5 separate regions of the Homo sapiens genome follow, and all the other regions are reported to be linked to region 4. Evidence: microRNA targets listed by miRTarBase, many of them from high-throughput screens and not tested one by one. Region 4 holds a microRNA gene; each other region holds the end of a gene's coding sequence. Distances are between the middles of the regions.
Evidence for each region. Region 4 holds the annotated microRNA hsa-miR-3162-3p (UCCCUACCCCUCCACUCCCCA, at 2,517-2,537, shown strand). A microRNA usually pairs through its seed, bases 2 to 8, with sites in the 3' UTR of a target mRNA and lowers its output. Matches are read on the target gene's strand: a 7mer-m8 pairs with bases 2 to 8, a 7mer-A1 pairs with bases 2 to 7 and ends in A, and an 8mer does both.

Region 1: miRTarBase lists PALLD as a target of hsa-miR-3162-3p. Seed matches in the 3' UTR shown: 7mer-A1 at 2,694-2,700.
Region 2: the mRNA of ZBTB16 is a reported target of hsa-miR-3162-3p. Seed matches in the 3' UTR shown: 7mer-A1 at 1,267-1,273, 7mer-A1 at 1,093-1,099 and 7mer-A1 at 412-418.
Region 3: the mRNA of HSPA2 is a reported target of hsa-miR-3162-3p. The part of its 3' UTR that is shown has no 7-base or 8-base seed match.
Region 5: miRTarBase lists CHERP as a target of hsa-miR-3162-3p. Seed matches in the 3' UTR shown: 7mer-A1 at 1,257-1,263.

What each region holds. Positions count from the first base shown.
Region 1 is chr4:168,924,516-168,928,664 of GRCh38, forward strand. PALLD (palladin, cytoskeletal associated protein) reads left to right here. Exons shown (of 22, transcript NM_001166108.2): 20 at 430-563; 21 at 718-763; 22 at 1,698-3,926. The coding sequence ends at 731. It also overlaps a transcript of CBR4 not described here. Among named protein-coding and RNA genes, the nearest start is that of CBR4, 84 kb to the right of the region's middle.
Region 2 is chr11:114,249,867-114,254,015 of GRCh38, reverse strand. It overlaps ZBTB16 (zinc finger and BTB domain containing 16), which reads right to left. Exons shown (of 7, transcript NM_006006.6): 7 at 1-3,690. The coding sequence ends at 3,461. Among named protein-coding and RNA genes, the nearest start is that of NNMT, 44 kb to the left of the region's middle.
Region 3 is chr14:64,541,989-64,546,117 of GRCh38, reverse strand. It overlaps HSPA2 (heat shock protein family A (Hsp70) member 2), which reads right to left. Exons shown (of 1, transcript NM_021979.4): 1 at 2,881-4,129. The coding sequence ends at 3,349. Among named protein-coding and RNA genes, the nearest start is that of HSPA2, 3.3 kb to the right of the region's middle.
Region 4 is chr11:59,593,624-59,597,623 of GRCh38, reverse strand. MIR3162 (microRNA 3162) reads left to right here and starts at 2,466; the gene lies at 2,466-2,547. It overlaps OSBP (oxysterol binding protein), which reads left to right. Exons shown (of 14, transcript NM_002556.3): 8 at 3,369-3,614; 9 at 3,900-4,000.
Region 5 is chr19:16,515,797-16,519,945 of GRCh38, reverse strand. It overlaps CHERP (calcium homeostasis endoplasmic reticulum protein), which reads left to right. Exons shown (of 17, transcript NM_006387.6): 16 at 231-325; 17 at 594-2,052. The coding sequence ends at 787. It overlaps C19orf44 (chromosome 19 open reading frame 44), which reads right to left. Exons shown (of 9, transcript NM_032207.4): 8 at 2,605-2,716. The coding sequence ends at 2,645. Among named protein-coding and RNA genes, the nearest start is that of C19orf44, 21 kb to the right of the region's middle.

The DNA of each region.
Region 1 (4,149 bases), not on the chromosome of region 4:
AGCCACATAGATGTTTTGATTTTTGATGAAATCAATCAAAGACAAAAACCATGCGTTACCCAATGTAGGATTAAGCTTTTAGAAGGAAGCTATGGGTGTTTGATCTAATGGTGATTTCTTAAAAGTGTTTATCATTCTATCTAAAAGAAAAGATGAATTCATTTGCTTTAGTGATAAAAGACTATTCAGTGGTTTTTGTAAAGGCAGATCCTCAACTAGGAATTAAGCACACAGATGTATTCAACTCTTGACGTCTGTTCTTTCTCCCATTAACTTTAATGGAGCTAGTAATCTCTACAGAATAAGTATGACCCTATTATCAGCTACTTGCACAATTCTGTTTCTAATGATCTAATTAAAAATGATGCTTCATGTCCAAAGCCACTTTTAAAAAATTTAGAACCCTAATGACTTTATCCTTTTCTCCAGCATGCACCAGGACAACCACGGCTACATCTGCCTGCTCATTCAGGGAGCCACAAAAGAAGATGCTGGGTGGTATACTGTGTCAGCCAAGAATGAAGCAGGGATTGTGTCCTGTACTGCCAGGCTGGACGTTTACAGTGAGTGCCACTTCATCTCATTTCATTGCGTTTACTCATTAAATTATGAAAAATTAGACATCTGGACAGCAAATCACATTACTCTTTATAAACAACTATTGTGTTTTATTTGTCAAAAAAATTCATATTGCTCTCTCTCTCTTTCTATTTGTAGTTTCTCGACATTAATAGTGAACCACACCAGGAGAACAAATACCCAAGTATCATTCAGGAACTTTGAATTATTAGCAAAATATGCATGTTGATTTCTCTTACATTGGCTAGTTAGTTGTGGCTTCCTTACTCAAGCATCCTTAGGAGTTAACAGTAGGCAAAGGCATAACCATGTTTTTCACATGTTCTTGTTACTGTGTTCTGCAAATGACTGCCTTTTAACATTTCTTCCTATATTCTATCGCAGTGTCCTAATGCACTCTAAACGTGTGTTCCATTGATCCTGGAATGCGTACTTTTGTGGCTTAGTGCTTTTCTCATTAATATATCTTAAGCAGCCAGCAGTAGACTTGTGTTTGTATATTTGTGTACATGCATCCCAAATTTAAAGAAAATTATTCCTATTGAATTTACAGTCTAGTACAATCAGCATTATGTTATCCATTGACATAAAAAAAACACTAGAAAAAAATTAAGAATTTATTTAAGAATTTATTTCAGATTTTGCCTCTTCTTGAAATAACTATGTGAGGGTCATCAAGAAATGTGTGGCCTCAACCTTCCCTACTGTACGATTCCTTTCAGTTGATTAGTGTTAAAGCATCCACATCCAGCAGAATTCCTAAGTGCTATAATTATTTTAGAGAAAATATTTTTTAAAAGGAGAGGGGGGATGAGAATTAGGAAGCTTATCAGCTATTCCAAAGGATTCCCTGTGCTGCAGTGTTTACTTAAAAAAAAAAAAGATAAACTACACTTGACCTTTGTAATCTAGCTGCTTTATTCCCACTATCCTGTATAGACAGTAAATCTGCAACATGTGAGTAAAATGCAAAAGTGTTCCTAAATTTTCCATGTTTCTACCATGGATGTGTTCAGGTGCCTTGCATCTATCTAGACATTCTGTATTTATTTGAAATATCTAAAGGCTTTCCAAGTATATCTTGATTAAAAATCTTAATTTACTCTTTTTCTTTGTAGCCCAGTGGCATCAGCAGTCACAGAGCACCAAGCCAAAAAAAGTACGGCCCTCAGCCAGTCGCTATGCAGCACTTTCGGACCAGGGACTAGACATCAAAGCAGCGTTCCAACCTGAGGCCAACCCATCTCACCTGACACTGAATACTGCCTTGGTAGAAAGTGAGGACCTGTAATCCAGCATTCTTGTTAAAGCTGAAACACTGAAACAGCCATTGCCTTGACCAACATATTCCTTTGTCACATTATGTAAAAGGCAGAAACATACCTTTGACTATAAGAAATTAAAAAAAAAACACCAAAATAATATTTTTCTTACTTGATATACCAAACTTAGTTTAAGTAGATAATGCTAATACAAATATACACATTGCACAGAAAATACACATTTACTGTCCAATTTAAAACTTTGGAATTGCTGTGATTAAAGTGATCAAAATGCCAAAATACTAAAGGAAATCAATTGTTCACAGGTAACTACAATTTGTATTATCTACAAGTGCCTTTAAACACAAGATATAGGTGCTGTGTAGCCTGATAGTGTGAAATGTTTAATGAGGGAGTTGTACCACAAACAGTACTACAATGATTCTGAAGCACAGTGTATTCAGACAGATACAGTGAACCAAGTGCAATATGTAAGGATGAAAGAAGAAGAGATGACAAAGAAATCCAAGTAAATGCCTTGTCTTTGCAAATGTTTTTATATTAAATCATAAGGAAGGAACTACTTGCCTTAAATGTTAATATCAAAAGAGTTTTCTAACAAGGTTAATACCTTAGTTCTTAACATTTTTTTTCTTTATGTGTAGTGTTTTCATGCTACCTTGGTAGGAAACTTATTTACAAACCATATTAAAAGGCTAATTTAAATATAAATAATATAAAGTGCTCTGAATAAAGCAGAAATATATTACAGTTCATTCCACAGAAAGCATCCAAACCACCCAAATGACCAAGGCATATATAGTATTTGGAGGAATCAGGGGTTTGGAAGGAGTAGGGAGGAGAATGAAGGAAAATGCAACCAGCATGATTATAGTGTGTTCATTTAGATAAAAGTAGAAGGCACAGGAGAGGTAGCAAAGGCCAGGCTTTTCTTTGGTTTTCTTCAAACATAGGTGAAAAAAACACTGCCATTCACAAGTCAAGGAACCCAGGGCCAGCTGGAAGTGTGGAGCACACATGCTGTGGAGCACACATGCTGTGGAGATTGCAGTGTGTCTGAGGTTTGTGTAGTAGTGGAAGATTTTAGGTATGTAGAGCAAGTTGAAAATGGATTGAGACTGCATGGTGGCATAAATGAGAAATTGCCTGTAGCATCTAGTCTACTTGAAGGAAGTGGAGACATAAGGAGAGACAAAAACAGGTTTGTGCCATAAAGTATTTTTTCAAAGACACCAAGATGTGGTAAATGAAAATTATTAGTTCACTTCCCTGCTGCCATGAAACTTTGCCTTAAGAAGGTGCTGGATTCCAAGGTTTGTAAAGGCATCTCGGTAAAGACTGCTTTTTGAATGCATATGATTTTGCATCAGCTAGACTGAGTTGATTCTGACCAGACTTGATGGTTTTAAGTCGGAACCGATAAATTTTAAAAAGGAGAAAAAATAATTTGACCTAGTAGTATAAAACATGAGGCTTTAATGGTACTTTGCTATGAAAAGAAAACACTGTATTCCTTATGCAAAACACATGTATCTTTCATTATTTATAAGTGGCCTCTCTTAGCTCAGTTACTCAATTCATACGTAGTATTTTTTAAAATAATTTTATATCTGTGTACCACCCCATATATTTCATATTACTGTTTCACATGTACAGCTTTCTACTTCTTTGTAAGAACACCAACCAACCAAGGTTTAAGTGATTAATAGGCTTGAGCACCGGGTGGCAGATGTTCTATGCAGTGTGGTTCAAGTTTCTTTGACCGCACTTATATGCATTGCTAATATGGAATTTAAGATACCATACACAGTCTCTCATGGACCTATCTCTATTGTAGAATTATGACTTATGTCTTACTTGCCAAATTTTTCTGAATGTGACCTTTTTTTGCTGATTTGCTGGGTTTGGGATTAACTAGCATTATTTTGCCACCTTTATATTGTATTTATAAAAAAAAAAGTACTATCAATCAATCATACTACTTTGGATTGTTGTGCTGGTGTAATGTGGATTTAACATCAATAAATATTTGACAAATAATAGTTGCAGTTTTGTGAAGCAAAATAAATATTCAGTTTTAGTTTTCTGTTGCTGCCATAACAATTAGCATAAACTTTGAGTGATGTTTGAGGCTTCAGCATCACTCATTTATTACTCACAGTTCTGTAAATCAAGTTCGGGCAGGATGTAGCTGGGTTCTCTGTTCAGGATCTTATAAAGCTAAAATCATTGTATCAGCTGGACTGTATTCTCATCTGGAGCTCAAGATCCTCTTCAAAATTCAAGT
Region 2 (4,149 bases), 55 Mb from region 4:
GCCTTGCCAGGCTGGAGAAGTTTTTCACTGTGCTGGATAAGGCAGTAGCAAGCAGGGTTGTCAGCAGTACCACAGCTAAAGGCAGCCAGGGGGCCGAAGGAGTCAGGTGGCATGAAGAAGAGGGGAGGACAGATATTCAGATCCCACCTGGGGAGAGACCCCTGTCTACCCTCCTCCTCTCCCCTTAACTCCAGACACATATAAAGCCTCCAGACAGCCTCTTAGCTTGCCCCCTGGCCACTAGGCCGTGCAACATTAGAACTGTTCTGTTGTTGTAGGTAGGAAGTTGGAGAAGAGGCATGTTAGACTCTATTCAGGTGTCTTCATGGGGAGAGGAAGGTACAGTAAGTTCAGAGGTGTCCCCAGACAGTAGCCCTCAGAAACCACACTCCCCTGAGCTCTCCCCATACCTCCCTACTGGGGTCTGCAGGGCCCACGGGGTTGGGTGGGGCATCCAGGTGCTGATTTAGTACCATCCATTGCTGCAACACCAGATTACGACAATACTGCATGATTTAACACACAACCACACACACAAAGCACACGCGCACACGCACATACATGTACAAAGGGATATTTTGGTGGTGGTGGATTTTTTTTTGTCTTTTGTCTTCCTATTCACATTACAAAAGGAAAGGGCAAGGTTCTGCAGAACTGACGAAGGAACTAACAGATACTACAAAAATATTACAATTTGTGAAGATTAGCTCAACCCTCTCAGCTTTTATGAATGGAGCGGGGAGGGGCCCAGGCTGAGTGGGAAGGGCATGGGAGTGAGGGGGCCAGCTAGTTCTATGGAATAGTTTGATTTTTTTCTCTTCCTTCCCCACCAATGTTGAATGACATCTTGCTGTTAAAAATACTGTTTTCTGGGATTTACAGATCCCCTGAGGGCCAGCCAGTCCCCGCTTCTTCCCAGACCAGAGGAGGAAGCCATAGTGCATAATGATTTCTTACAGACGGCCCCTCCCCCAAATGATTTCACCCTTTTCACATTATAAACATGACAACTGTTCTAGTCACGTATTTCAAGTTTAACTTCTTTTCCTTTCCAAAACACTAAGTCGTTACTATAGTTGCAAAATAGCATCCTCCCTACTTTACCATCCCTAATCCACAGTCTAGTGACACCGTCCTCCCAATTCACATCCTCCCAACACACAATTTTAAGGCCTTCAGATTTGGTGGATGAGATTGAAGGGGAGGGCAGGAGGGCTGGGGCCGAGGGACGGGGGGGTCGTCGCAGCAGCACCCATCCCTCCGGCTTCCCTACATTCCTCGTGATCCTTCTCCCCAAAACCGCTTCCCTAAACCACTTTGTAAAACCTAAGATCAAAACGCAGCCACAACTTTCTCAGAGAGAGAAAGGAAAGAAAAAATAATAATAAAAAACTCTTACACATAAAGCATGAGATGAAACGGAGGGTCCGTCCCAAAGCAAACACGAATATTGCAAATGTGCTTTCCAAAATTCAGGAGGGTCGGGGGAGGTTGGGGAAAAGAGGGAGGAAGAGCAGCAGAATGGGAGGCGGGAAAGGAACAAAAGAACAACTGGACAAACATAAGAGGTAGCTTTTAGAAAAACAACACCCCCACCCCAACACAACAAAACAAAGGCTGGATCCCGCCCCCCTCCCCAAAGACCAGCCGTGAAAATAGACCAATTCTGGCAATGAGAATGCACGCACAGAGGTGAGACCACACAGTTGCAAGGATCCAAACACAGGCCCTCAAACCTCAATGGCCCAGCAAATTGTAAGAAAGGTGGGATTCTCTCCAGAGTGTTTTAGGCGGAACGGATGGTGGCCACAGGTGACTTCATGCACCAGCGGAGCCAAAAGTGACTCCCTAGTGCCCTCTGGGGACCATGAGACCCCAAAGCAACATCCCCTCCCCACCCACGCTCTTCGCCCTCCTCGGCCCTCACATTCAGATCCTGAGTATCAACTCCTCCTGCACAGTTCCTGCCAGCTGGGAGGCTGGTCTCCAGGGGCACGGGGAGGGTCTTGACCAGCTGAAGTCTATAAAAACAACTATTAATTTACACAAGAAACAGAAAAGAACACCCTCCCCATTCCTCCAAGCCCCAACCGAAAAAGAGATACAGAGGTTAAGAAAGCTCATGAGGTCACAAAAAACTGAGGTAATTCAAGTACAATGTGCTAACAGGGGACACAGAAAAGAAGCAAAACATAACACAAGGCCAAAGCGCTTTCAAATCCTCCTCCTCCTGCAGCTCCTCCCCCTCCTTCTGCTCCTCCTCCTCCTCCTCTCCACTGTGGACCGAGGGGCGCTGTGAGTCAGGAATTCTGTGCGACTCTCTCTGGACCTGGCTTTTCTTGCTGAGCTCACTACATCTGGGGTCCCCAGTGTGACTCAACAACTTTCTCCCTTGCCCAGCTTCCCTCATCCCACGGGCTGGGTGTCCTCTTTTCCAGGTGTGGGACCCCTCTAGAGAAAGACATCCACAACCTACCCTCGGAACCTCAGCCCATTCATGGATTCCTTCTCCTGGGACTGAAGTAGGGCTACGTAGGGACTGTGGTTTGTTTGGTAGGATATTAGGTATTTAGTTGTGATGCTTTTCCATTTTGGAAGCAGCGCAGCAGGAATCTTGCTCACGATGGTGCTGGACTAGGGTGGGGTATTGGATTTGTTTTGTGTTCTCAGAAGGCTGAGGGTAGGAGGGACCCTGAAGTCAGAGGCAGCTATCCCACTAGGGAACCGGAGAAGGATGGAGACACCGCCAGGTCCCTGAGGGGCTGGGACTCCCCTGGGACTTGGAGGACAGGAGTCAAGGGGAGGCTGGGAACAAAGAGCTGGAGGAGGGGCAGGGGTCCTGAGGCTCTCAGAGACCACCGGGGGACACCCAGATGTGGCAAAGCAGAGGAAAGCAGCAGGTGGGCTGAGTGGTGGGAAGAGAAACAGAGCCCTTCTCCTCCCCAGTCAGCCGCCAGCAAACTAGAGCTGCCATTTTGAGCAGCTAGTGACCCAGCCCAGACCCATCAGCAGGGGAGCGCCCTTCTGGCTCACCTCCTCCCTCCCTTCATCTCCTGGGGGTCTTGGTGGAGGAAGGCCGGCACAGACCGTGTGGCTCTGACCAGAGGACCTCTCACCTGCTTTCTAGCCTCCATTTCTGGACACATAAAAGAAGGTCTGGGTGAAGGAAGGAGAAAAATGTGCCACCATTTGAGTGAACAAAATACCCAACCCCATCCCAGAAAATCAGGCAAACCTCCAGCCGGGAGAGGAGGGTGGAGGCCCCCAGAGGAGGGGCAGTGGCTTGGCATCCAGGTCATCTGGAGCCCAGAGAGAATCCAAGGCCAAAAAGCTACCAGGTTTCCTTTTCCTTCTGTTTTTTTTTTTCTTTTCCTTTTTTATTTGTCATAGTCCTTCCTTCATCTCACTCCAACTCTTCTTTCCTGGCTCCCCGCTCGGCTCCACCGCCGCGGGCCTCCCTTCACACATAGCACAGGTAGAGGTACGTCTTCTCTATCCTCCAGTCGGGCGGGATCTCCTCGGGCTTGTGGCCCTTCATGTGCTTCTGCATGGAGGAGAGGCTGGGGCAGTACTCTGTGCAGATGGTGCACTGGTAGGGCGAGGCGCCGTTGTGCGTTCTCAGGTGCTTGATCATGGCCGAGTAGTCCCGGGAGCGCTGGTGGCAGAGCTTACACTCAAAGGGCTTCTCACCTGAGGGCGGAGGGACAGGGCAGGAGAAAGTGAGGACAGACAGAAGGCGGTGAGGGCACCATGTCACCCTCAGGCGTGCCAGGGAAGCTGGGTTCCTCCAGCTGGGCTTGCTCCAACAGAACTTTCTGGGACAATGAAGGCACCACCCAAGACGGCAGCCACCAGTCACACATGGCTATGAATGAGGCTGGTGCGACTGCAGCTCTACAGTTTTCTAATTTTATTTCATTGTAACTAATTTAAATAGCTACATGTAGCTAGTTGACTACTGGATTGCCCAGCTCCTTGTCTTACTATTCTTAACTCTCCCAAGGCCACAGTCTTTTCCCTTTCTAATTAAGAAAATGGGTGTCTAGAAAGAGAAAGGCCCCAAAGTCCTCAGGAATGGCTCTTCAAGCCACAGTTCCGTCCAGAGAGCAGGTGGATCGAGACCTTTCAGGGCTACAGATGGTGGGGAGC
Region 3 (4,129 bases), not on the chromosome of region 4:
ATTCCTGCTTCTGAATCCAAACATATATATTCCCTTAACAGTTGAGACATACGGATGTGAGATATTTTTAAACTTCAATTTAAATCGTGTTCAAAAGCAAGAGGAGCATGCCTCACAACACAACCTTTATAAACTACATTCAGTTAAAAGTAAGAATATGTTATAGGTCCACTATTGGAAAATCATAAAAATAGATTTTCTGATTTCATCTAGATAGCCAGGTTGTATTACTGTTTAAGATTATACATAAAAAAGAAATACTCATTAAGTCTCCATTACATATTGAATGGGTAACATAATATTACACATACATGTTAAATTAACAGTTGTAAATTGTACTAAGATCTCCTAATGTACAAGTTTTAATGCATTTTCATTATACATATCAAATCAATACTATAAAAAATTTAAAGTGAGTTTGTTTTGAAATTTCACACATCTCAAATACTGTAAACAACTAGTTATGTCTTCGTTTGACAGGTGTCTATATTTGTTCCCTCAAAACAGGGACAACTATGTTAATCAAACATTCAGATAAGAATTTCAGGTAAGTGGGCTGGCGCGTGGCTCACGCCTGTAATCCCAGCACTTGGGGAGGCCAAGGCGGGCGGATCACCTGAGGTCGGGAGTTCCAGACCAGCCTGACAAACATGGAGAAACCCCATCTCTACTAAAAATACAAAATTAGCCAGGTGTGGTGGTGCATGCCTGTAATCCCAGCTACTCGGTAGGCTGAGGCAGGAGAATCGCTTGAACCCAGGAGGCGGAGGTTGAAGTGAGCCGAGATCAAGCCATTGCACTCCAGCCTGGGCAACAAGAGTGAAATTCCGTCTCAAAAAAAAAAAAAAAAAAAGAATTTCAGATAAGTGCCTGTCGGAGAATCCTTAAACTGTAATTTAGCCCCATCCTAACATCAAGTACTTTTTCCACTGTTATTTGACTATGGCTGATCTAACATCTGCTAAGGAGTTCCCAGGAGTTATCAGGTTACAAGTTTCAACTGACCCCTGGAAAGTGAATGGCTACTTTGGTGGCTTTATCTTGGTAATATGCAAATCTTGGTAAATTTGAAAAGAGAGAATTAAATAAGAAACACTCTCAAGAATGCTCAAGAATGTAAAACTCAAGAATTTGAGTTTTACAAATTACTTTTCAAAATAGAAAATGAAGTATCTGCCCAGATTGATGTTAGTATTATAGCAAGCTACCGGAGGTCAGGCCGTAGGATCAAAAACTACCAATGGTCATTTTCTGATACTTTAGAAACTAATCTCTTAAGTGAGGTCTAAAATGAGTCATACCAAACTGCATTTACAGAAGGACTCCATTATATTTTGAAGTTAGAGCAAGGAATGAACACTTTCAACAAATAAAGGACTAATAAAAGGGTAACAGAATGGGTATTATCTTGGTAAAACTCACAGTAAACGTCACTCTAAAGCTACAATTAACCTGATTTTGTAGTACCATAGTAGTTTGTCACATATTTATGCCTGTAGTCCATGAAACACCCTTAAATGCTCATTGCTGAAAAATTTCCACCAATGTGACACCAGCACTGATAAATTGGAGTTATCTTTAGCTTTTCAGAGTATAAAAAGCAGTTTCCTTTAAAAAAAAAAAAAGGTTTTTATGTTGAAGCAATTTCACTGTTGGCTATTTATCTTCCTCCCCCCTACCCAAATGAGGCTTGCTAAAAAGGAAAAAAAAAAAAACACCTTATGTGTACTTAAGAGTCAACTCTTGTATGAAAGGGTCATTACCAAAGGCCAGTATTCTTAGGCTAACTTCTTAGCTAGTTTTAAAATTATTACTCATTCCATTATTCATAAAATTAATCTCTCTGAATGACACAGATGGGTCCACTACTAAATTGAAGATAAAGCTTTCATAACTATTGTCTTATGAGCAGCATGAAGCAAACCTGCATCATGTGGAAAGATATCAAAACGTCTATGTGCAGTAAAAACATTAGGTTAACTATGCATTTTCCTATTGGTTTTACTGAATTTCTCTCAAGTTCTCCTTAAAGAGAGTAAGAAAAGAGTAGTCATGTCATTTCACTAAAAAATAAAAATGAATTCCTTTCTCTGAAGGATGTGAATTTTAAAGATTAAGTCCAGGATAGTGGATCACCAAAGGGTTGCAATATTCTTATCTATAACAATCTCAAATTGGATATGGAGGAAAATGGACAAGTTGTATATTAACAAAATACAAGACTATCTAGTACAGTTTGCCTTTTAAAAAAGAAATCTATCGTAGTGATTTAAGGCAAGTATTGCAAAAACGTTATGATCCCCAAACCAGAAAAAAATAATAATAATTATGTTTCCCTACCCAAGTAATTCTAACTGCGGGAAACATGTTATTAGAATTTGCCATAAGCTCAGAAGTTGAGCTGTTTTACTAGAAAATTAAACAAGTTTGACTAAATTTATACTCACTATTAAGTCACTTGAAAGCTTGCCTGCTGTCTCTTGTTTCAGGCTCCTGTATGTCACAAAATTAATTTGTTTCCATATTTCCTTTGGCAATTATAAGACAACTTCTGCCCAGCTTTTGTTAAAGGCTCATTTTACATTTAACCCCAGAATATAGCTCATATTTTCCTGGAATATTCAGGTGAATTTTCATTTGGACACTTAAGTTGTAGGAGTGTGAGTACACTAGGAAGACCCCAAGTCAGGTTTCTGTATTTAAGGGTGGGTGAAGTTTACCCAGATTCTTCTCCCCTTAAGTTGTTGGAATTCAAGGCAGCACCCTCATCTGGGAATTAAACAAGATTGGTTAGATAAATTTCACATCATACTAACATCTTAAAAGACGAATATGGGTAAAATATAAAGGAAGGAAAATTGAAAACTCCAAGACAGTAACTTTGAGATCAATTTCAGCTTTACTTTACATTTGCATTTATGCATTTGTTTGCAAAAAGTATACCTGTCCTTAACATTACTGCAATGTTCAGTTTAGTTTTAAAGTAGTACATAAAAATAAACAATTTAAGCTCCTATATATTTTACTGTTTCCAAGCTTCTACAGAACAGGTGTGCAAACTTAAGGTTTCTCATCTCAAACAAATCTCCATGCACGAACTAATCAAAAATGCTCAAGTCAGCAAACACGCAAAATGCATTAAAGAGAAACCTCGAATAATGTTTTTAAAAAACAAACTTTGGAACTTTTATAATTAAACTAAGTTGTTGCACCTCTCCTTTCATTTGCATATACCAAAGACTTCCAACAATAGATCTCGTACTTGGCACAAGGACATTTCAAAGAAACAAACAAAAAAAAAGAGAGAGAGAGAAAGGCAAAGAGGTTTACGCTGACTTGAGTGCAAGCTTAGTCCACTTCTTCGATGGTGGGTCCCCCGGAGGCTCCTGAACCGCCGCCGCCGCTGCCGCCGCCAGGACCACCTTGGTAAAGTTTGCTGATGATGGGGTTGCAAACTCTTTCGAGCTCTTTCTGCTTGTGTTCATACTCATCTTTCTCTGCCATCTGGTTTCGGTCGAGCCAGTTGATCACCTCCTGACACTTGTCGAGGATCTTGTTTTTGTCCTGCTCGCTAATCTTGCCCCTCAGTTTCTCGTCTTCCACCGTCTGCTTGATGTTGTAGGTATAGGACTCCAGGGCGTTTTTGGCCGCGACTCGGTCGCGATTCGCCTCATCTTCCGATTTGTACCGCTCCGCCTCCTGCACCATCCGGTCAATGTCGTCCTTGCTCAGACGACCTTTGTCATTGGTGATGGTGATTTTGTTTTCCTTACCGGTGCTCTTGTCGGCGGCGGTAACGTTAAGGATGCCATTGGCGTCAATGTCGAAGGTAACCTCGATTTGGGGGACCCCGCGAGGCGCAGGGGGAATCCCGGTCAGGTCGAACTTGCCCAGCAGGTTATTGTCCTTGGTCATGGCCCGTTCGCCCTCGTATACCTGCACCAGTACGCTGCTCTGGTTGTCCGAGTAGGTGGTGAAGGTCTGCGTCTGCTTGGTGGGGATCGTGGTGTTCCTCTTGATGAGTGGGGTCATGACACCGCCAGCTGTCTCGATGCCCAGCGACAACGGGGTCACGTCGAGTAGCAGCAGGTCCTGCACATTCTCTGATTTGTCGCCGATGAGGATGGCC
Region 4 (4,000 bases):
AGGCTGCAGTGAGCCATGATCTCACCACTGCACTCCAGCCTGGGTGAGAGCAAGACCCTGTCTCAAAAGAAAAAAAGGTTGACCTTCAGATAAGAAAAGGCCATGAGTAGCCTTAGGATAAACCTAAAATAATAATTAGTTTATTGGGGGCTTGAAAAGAAACCCCACTTGTCTGGAGTATTAGGTGCCTTGAAGGGAGTAGTGGGAAAGTGGACTGGAAAGGCATGTCATTGCAGTCTCAGGAATGTAGTTCCTGCTTAGAAACAGCTTCTGGTGCCATGCGCGGTGGCCCACACCTGTAAAAAAATCCCAGCACTTTGGGAGGCTGAGGCAGGCGGATCACTTGAGGTCAGGAGTTCGAGACCAGCCTGGCCAACATCTCTCTAAAAATATAAAAATTAGCCGGGCATGTTGGCGCGCGTCTGTAATCCTAGCTGCTTGGGAGGCTGAGGCAGGAGAATTGCTTGAATCTGGGAGGCGGAGATTGCAGTGAGCCAAGATTGTGCCACTGCACTCCAGCCTGGGCAACAGAGTGAGACTCCATCTCAAAAAAAAGAAAGAAATAGCTTCTGGGTCTAGGTGACTTCTCTGTCCTCCTTTACCATTAGTTCCTTATTGATCTTGCCTTTAAGAATGTACAGTCCTGTACCTGTTTGCCCGCAGATCAAGTCCTCACCCTTCCCCTACTCTAGGCTGTAACACAGGAAAACTAATCCCTCTAGGAAGTGTTTTTTCAGGCTTCCGTGGCTACTGGAGTCTGGCTGGGCTTCACTAATGCAAGATACCAGTAGGAGGTTATAGCCGTGGGAAGTCTCTCCCTCTATGCCCTCTTGAGTGGTGCTCTGGCGCACCTACGTGGCTCTAGTTTTCACTGGAGAGGCCTCCCCTGCCTTGATGTTTTACATTCTCCTGATCCTCCTCTCTTGGACCCCCACCTCTAGGCTGTAGTAATACTGCTGCTTCTCCCCATCTCTCCACCCTACCAATGGTTATGGCTTCCTGTTGCTGCTAATCTCTGGGTTGTCTTTTTTTTTTTTGGGTGCCTAATTTTTCATCAGCTGTATAGCTCCCTGCTTCCTTCTACTTTAAATACTCAGACTCATTTCTTTCCCTGTTTGGCTTTTGAGTAATAAAATGACCATTATAAGAAGCTTGGCACTTTTGGAGAAACTGGTTGTTGATGGGCAAGGCTGTGTGTGTGTGAAAAGCAGTGATAGCAATGTGCTGATTCTAGTCCCATGCACTGCTGGTATGTCTAGTACCACCAGTGGAGTACACTGCCTGTCCCCAGTTTTCCTCAAAATGTATGGAAATGTTACTTCGTATTGTCTAAATTCTGCCACGGACAGATTTTATTGGGTGTAGTTAATAAGTGCCCTCTTTAAAAAGAATCGAGGATTATGGCTTTTGCAGCGCGCCACCCCTCAGTGTGCATTTGTGTCATCATACTGCTTGTCTTTCAGTGTAGGGAAGAGGGCTCTGGGGTATGGCACACTGTTTTGGTGGGTCCTATTTCTCAAAGGATGAGTGTTGTTGGCTCTGTGGCTCTGTGTTCACTGGAAAATGTTCACAGAGAAACATTTGGGATATTTCTCAGAGAAAAAGCAGGCTCTAGTTTATGAATTTTATTTATTTATTTATTTATTTATTTATTTATTTATTTATTTATTTATTTATTTTTAGACAGAGTCTCGCTCTGTTGCCCAGGCTGGAGTGCAGTGGCATGATCTTGGCTCACTGCAACTTCTGCTTCCTGGGCTCAAGCCATCATCCCACCTCAGCCTCCCAAGTAACTGAGACTACAGGTGCACGCCACCACACCGTGCTAATTTTTGTGTTTTTTTTTTATAGAGATGGTGTTTTGCCATGTTTCCCAGGCTGGTCTCAAACTGCTGAGCACAAGCAATCCGCTTGCCTCAGCCTCTCAAAGTGCTAGGATTGTAAGCATGAGCCACCACACGTGGCCAAGTTTATTACTTTTAAAAATGTATGAATGTATAGAAACAAACTGAAAATGTTAATAGTGGTGATCTCATTTCAAGAAAATTTTTTCCTTGATACTTTGTTTTCAAAGTTTTTTACAGTTAAAAATTATACGATATTAATTTCATGATTGAGCGGGCGGTGGGGGGATAGCAAATATTAGGGTAATATGTAGCTCAGAGATTGGTGGGTAGAAGGGTGAACAAAAATGCCAAAAGAGATGGAACATCAGAAAGAAAAGTGTTGTGTTTTTTTTGTTTGTTTAAGTAAAGCGTTGCTTAAGGCCAGAACCATTCACTAAAAGGGAATTTTTTCTTTCTTCTTTTGTTCTCTGGACTTAGAACTCAGGCTAATAATATTTAGACTTGTTCATCTATATTGTTAATTAAATAAGCTTTATGGACTAACTTGGGAACCTGACTTGTTTTATAGTGAATTTTTACATAGTAAAATCATTTAAAATTTCAAAGTTAATTTTGAAGCTGACTTTTTTAGGGAGTAGAAGGGTGGGGAGCATGAACAATGTTTCTCACTCCCTACCCCTCCACTCCCCAAAAAAGTCAGCTTCTCTTGTTAACTTCTCTCTATCCAGTGGGTAGCATAGGGTCTGGCACACATGGGTACTCAATAAATATTTGTGGAATGAGTAAGTGAATAAATGAATGAATGAACATCTCCCCCAACAGAAGCCCCCAATTCCTGGCACACACACATAAACACACACATGCTTGCTTTATCCAGTACTTGGTCGCCTTAAGCTGGCTTCAGAATTAGAAAGGTAAGAGCATGCACAGCCCCCTCTCAACCCCCATCATGAGCACTTCACTCCCAGAAACACAATTATCCAGCCTCAGAGGAGAAATCAGAATCCTGGCCTGATGCAGAACTGAACTGAGATTTAGCAATTGTTTTGTCCAGGGTGGAAACTAACTTTTATAACTAGTCAGGATATAGCTGTACTTATAATTTACTACTGTTTCTTTCATTCTCCAAGAATTTTAAATACCTGATTTCCTCTCTGGGTATACTTGTGCTAAAATACATTGCATTTCTTTTTTAAAAAACTTATTCATCCAACACCTATTTGATGATAGTCTTCTGTGGGCCAGTCACTGATGGATCTTGGGTATGTAGCACTCAACAGAAGAGGCATGGTTCCCATCTCAAAGAGCTTACAGTTAGTGAAATGAAAACAGTGATTTCTGCCACTCACAGACATGAACAGTTGACAAGGAGAATGGGTTGTTTGCGGGTTAAATATTAGAGCCGCTCTACTGAGCAAAGCCCTCTTTTCCCAGTGATTTATTTCCTAAACTGCAAAAAAAATTAAACTGTCTCTTATAGATGAGTGAGCATAGTTTTTATATCTGTTCTTCTCCTTACAGGTAAACTTTAATGAGCCCTTGTCCATGCTTCAGCGCCTTACTGAAGATCTGGAATACCATGAGCTGTTAGACCGAGCTGCAAAATGTGAGAATTCTCTAGAACAGCTCTGTTATGTTGCAGCTTTCACCGTGTCCTCCTACTCCACTACTGTCTTCCGCACCAGTAAGCCATTCAACCCACTGCTTGGGGAGACCTTTGAGCTGGACCGATTAGAGGAGAATGGGTACCGATCCCTCTGTGAACAGGTAAAGGAACCTCAGAACCATAACGCATTTCCTTTCTGAAGAAAGAGATGATTTTTTGGTTAATCCCCTGGGTCTTATGTTTGCAGAAATTCTAGTCCCTGTCATCCCAGCTTTTATTCTTTTTCTTCAGAACGTCAGCGTTGGAGACCCTGGAGGTTCTGGGATTCACCTACTGTTGTGGGTGTAAAAACGTCAAGTGTGAATTTTGGTGTTTCTCACCAATTTATAGGCAGTATCTTTTTCTTCTCCTTTCTGCCGTCTTAATTTGAACCTGATTTCTTCAAGGTGAGTCATCATCCCCCTGCTGCTGCGCACCATGCTGAGTCCAAAAATGGCTGGACATTGCGTCAGGAAATCAAAATCACCAGCAAGTTTCGAGGCAAATA
Region 5 (4,149 bases), not on the chromosome of region 4:
CTGGGTTGGAGGTGTCCTGCTCTCAATGCTGAGCGTGGGGTGGGGGCCAGCGTCTGGAGCCCCCTTATCTAGCTGAGACAGGATAAACGGGTAGAGACGCAAAATCTGCATACGGTGTCACCTGGTGACAGTGAGCATGCACGCAAGCTGCGGCTGTGAGGTCCTCATCACTGTCATTCCAATAAATGTCTCAGTTACTTCTTAAAAAGAATAACCTGTCTCGATTTTAGTTCCTCTGCTGGTCTGGGTTCTAATTCGGCGCCTCCCATCCCTGACTCAAGGCTCGGAGAAGAGAACAAAGGCCATCAGATGCTGGTGAAGATGGGTAAGGCGAGGGAATGGGGAGGGCGCGGGATGGGTCCTCACGCGTGCTGGGCCCGGGAGTCACCAGCGCTTTCTCTTCCTCAGTGCATGTGGGGATGGATGGAGTCAGGCCGGTTCTGACTCCACCCAGACCCTCTAGACAGGGCCGGCCTGCGGGTTCTCTCTACCCATTTCCCATGTCTACACTGCCTGTCTGGACATTCAGCCCCCCACGTGCACCCCCATCTGCCTCCGCCTTGTTGTGGTTGTGACTGCGTCTCTGTTTCCAGGCTGGAGCGGCTCAGGCGGCCTCGGTGCGAAGGAGCAAGGGATCCAGGACCCCATCAAGGGCGGGGACGTCCGGGATAAGTGGGACCAGTATAAAGGCGTGGGCGTGGCTCTGGATGACCCCTATGAGAACTACCGCAGGAACAAGAGCTACTCCTTCATCGCCCGCATGAAGGCCAGGGACGAGTGTAAGTAGGCGCCCATGCCGGGAGCCGCGCCGGTGGCCAGCGGTGCCGGCTGTGGGACCTTCCTGGCTGACTGGCAGAGGAAGATTGCAGTGACAGCTCAGTTCTTACACCGTCTCCACTTGTGGAGAGCCACAGGAAGAGAAGGAAGACCAGCGCATGCCCAGTGGGAACGCCGTGCTCCATGGCGTGGAGGGCACGGGTGCCACCCACAAACCACACCAGGAGGCGCTGCAGCCACCAGGGCCCCAGGCTCGTTTTCCTTTATAGCGAAGCAAAAAACACAAGACCCTCCGCCCGAGTAAATTCTTCAGCCACGAAGGGATGGATGTGCATCTGCCCTAAGTCAGATTGAAGCCTCCTCCTAGGCTCCAGGAGGAGCATGTGCAGGAAGGGTTGGCCTGAGCCAGAGCCGGCACCCCAGCTCCTTCCTCCAGCTCCCCGCACCCACCGGCCCTGACCTGGCTTCCCCTCGGCTGTGTAGGGACAAAGCCGAAGCCCAGTGCCATGACTGCCCGCGGATTGAAAAACAGAAACACAAAACTTTGACTTGACTTGCGAAGTGAAGCAGGGTTTTCATTTTTACTCTCCTTGGTTTAGGTCTAGAAAGAAGAATACTGACCTGAGAGGAGGCCCAGTGAGATTCTGAAACCTAATTCTTCGAAGGCGTACTGGCCCTTAGTTCAGTTATTTTAGTTGTATAAGTTGATATTTTTTTTCTGGAATGTAGCCATTTGCTGTTATCTGGGAAACAAGATTCTAACAGGAAACCAGCCTAAGACACTTCAGGTTGAGCGCTGCCTCGGAGTCTGTGCCCGTCGCGTCCCCTGCTTGAGTTTTGCACTTGGAAGAACCCTGCACCGGCTGGCGTGTGCGACGGCCCAGTCCCATCCAGAGCATGGAGCCCGACCCCAGCCAGCGCCTTCCACTCCATCATTTCATTTCACACCCCCGAAGGGAGGGGAGGCCAGGAGGGGAGCTGCTCCTGCCAGAAGCTGGTGGGTGACCGTTGGGAATCGGCCACACCTGGTGTCCATGGGCAGCCTGGTGCAATTCCATTCATTTGTACAGAAACATTTTTGAAAAATTCTTTTCAATAAGATGCAAAATCTTCCAACTTTTCAACCCAACGTGATGAATATTTGATTTTGTTCTAGATTTCCTGTAGCTGTGAATTGTTAAAATGTATGATTCAGGATAAAACGTAAACACGTGCTGTTAGTAATTTCTTGTGGATTTCATTGTTTTGCCTTCAAATAAAGCCTTTTTTTAAAGACCTTTCTCCCGCACATGTGTAAGTCAGAAGTGTGCACGGGCTGAGTGAGGAGACACATGTCCTGGTTTGAGCTGTGCAGCCTGGGGTCAGAGGCCGTGTCCAGGGGCTCACATGGCGTCCCCAGCGTGCTGACCTGGTCCCATGTCCTTACCCTCGAGCAGGGCTTCTCCCATCCACCCTGTCTCCCTCTGGCTCACTGGGATGCCAGGACCTGCCTGGGTGGAGCTGCTCTGCAGAGGCTGGTGGCCCCTGTCCTGCTGTGAGTGGGGACAGCTCCACTGAAATTCTATTTCCACTGGCCTGTGGTGTCATAGAGCTGGGCATGCTGCTGGGAGAGCTGTCACTGAGCTGGGATTTGGCTCAGAGGAGTCTGGGGCCCTCACCGCAGCACCACCTGCCCCACCATGGAATGTCACACCTGGATGCTGACTGTGTGTGTGTGTGTCCATCACCCCAGTACCACCTGCCCCCACCACGGAACGTCACACTTGGACACTGATGAGCTCTATGTTTGTGTGCGTGTGTGTGCACTGAGTACACAGGACGGGATACCTTTTGTTAAGACGTCACGTCAAGCTCCACCTGCTGGCGCTCACAGCTCCTTGTTCACCTCCTCCAGGGCATCCTCCATGGTCAGTGGGGCAGGTCTGTGGCACCTAATGTACTGTCAGGCAGAGAACAGACCACGCCATCACCATCGTCACCTCAGTACACTCTGAGACAGGGTGCTGGAGGAGGGAGTGGAGCCAGCACCTGTCCCCAGCAGGCTCCTGTCAGTGACAGAAGTGTAAAACCACAGGATGTGTGTGACAGGTTGGCGCACGGGGCTGTGGGAACACAGGGTAGAGGGTCAGCCCTGCGAGGGGTGAGCCCTGACAGAGAAAGGGAGGGGTGCCTGTGAGTGCCCTTGGAGTGGCTGAGATCAGGGAGAAGCGCCTGGAGCAAGCAGCTGGGAGCTATGGTGGGCTGCAGCCAGGTGGCACAGTCAGATGGCTTCTGCCTGCATCGGATGGGCTGATGGACGCCCAACAGAGGCATGAGTTCAAAGCCCCCAGAGGGCTGCAATGAGCAAAGTTGACATTGTAGAGACCCGTGGGACTCACAACCTGCCCTCTTCAGCAGATAAACCACAAGGAAACGAGAGGCCTGGCATGCAGGGGACTCGGCACAGTTCCAAAGCAGCGTCCCGGGGCATGTGGGAGAAACGCCTAGCTCCAGGCCCACCCCGCCTGCTTGCGGGCCCAGCATCGCTTTCACAGGGCTTCCAGGGGATCCCCAACCGCTCAGCATTGAGAACCGGTCGCTGCTCTAGATTAAGAGGCTCAAAGGACATATCGGATAGTATGGACTTTGGATCCGAATTACCAAATCGGAACAAAACACACAACTTTAAATCAGACAAGCAGAAATCTCAACACTGGATATTCCTTGATACTTAGTAAATTTGGTTTGTGTATTATTGCATTATGGTTGTTTGTTTGAGACAGAGTCCCGCTTTCTCCCTCACTACAGCCTCAACCTCCCCAGCTCAAGTGATCCTCCCACCTCAGCCTCCCAGAGAGCTGGGACTACGGGCACACACCACTATGCTAAACTTAAACTAGTTTTCTTGTATTTTTTAATAGAGATGGAGTCTTGCTATGTTGCCCAGGCTGGTCATGAACTCCTGGGCTCAAGCGACCCACCCTGCCTCAGCTTCCCAAAGTGCTGGGATTACAGGAATGAACCACCACACCTGGCTTTAACATCACTTTTTAGAAATAAACACTGAAAAATTTGTTATGTAAAATGTTTAAAGCAGGGGGCGGTGGCTCACGCCTATAATCCCAGCACTTTGGGAGGCCGAGGCAGGTGGATCACCTGTGGTCGGGAGTTCAAGACCAGCCTGACCAACATGGAGAAACCCTGTCTCTACTAAAGATATGAAAAATTAGCTGGGCATGGTGGTTCGCACCTGTAATCACAGCTACTCAGGAAGGTGAGGTAAGAGAATCACTTGAACCCAGGAGGCGGAGGTTGCAGTGAGCTGAGATTGCACCATTGCACCCCAGCCTGGGCAACAAGAGTGAAACTCAGTCTCAAAAGAAAAAAAAAAGT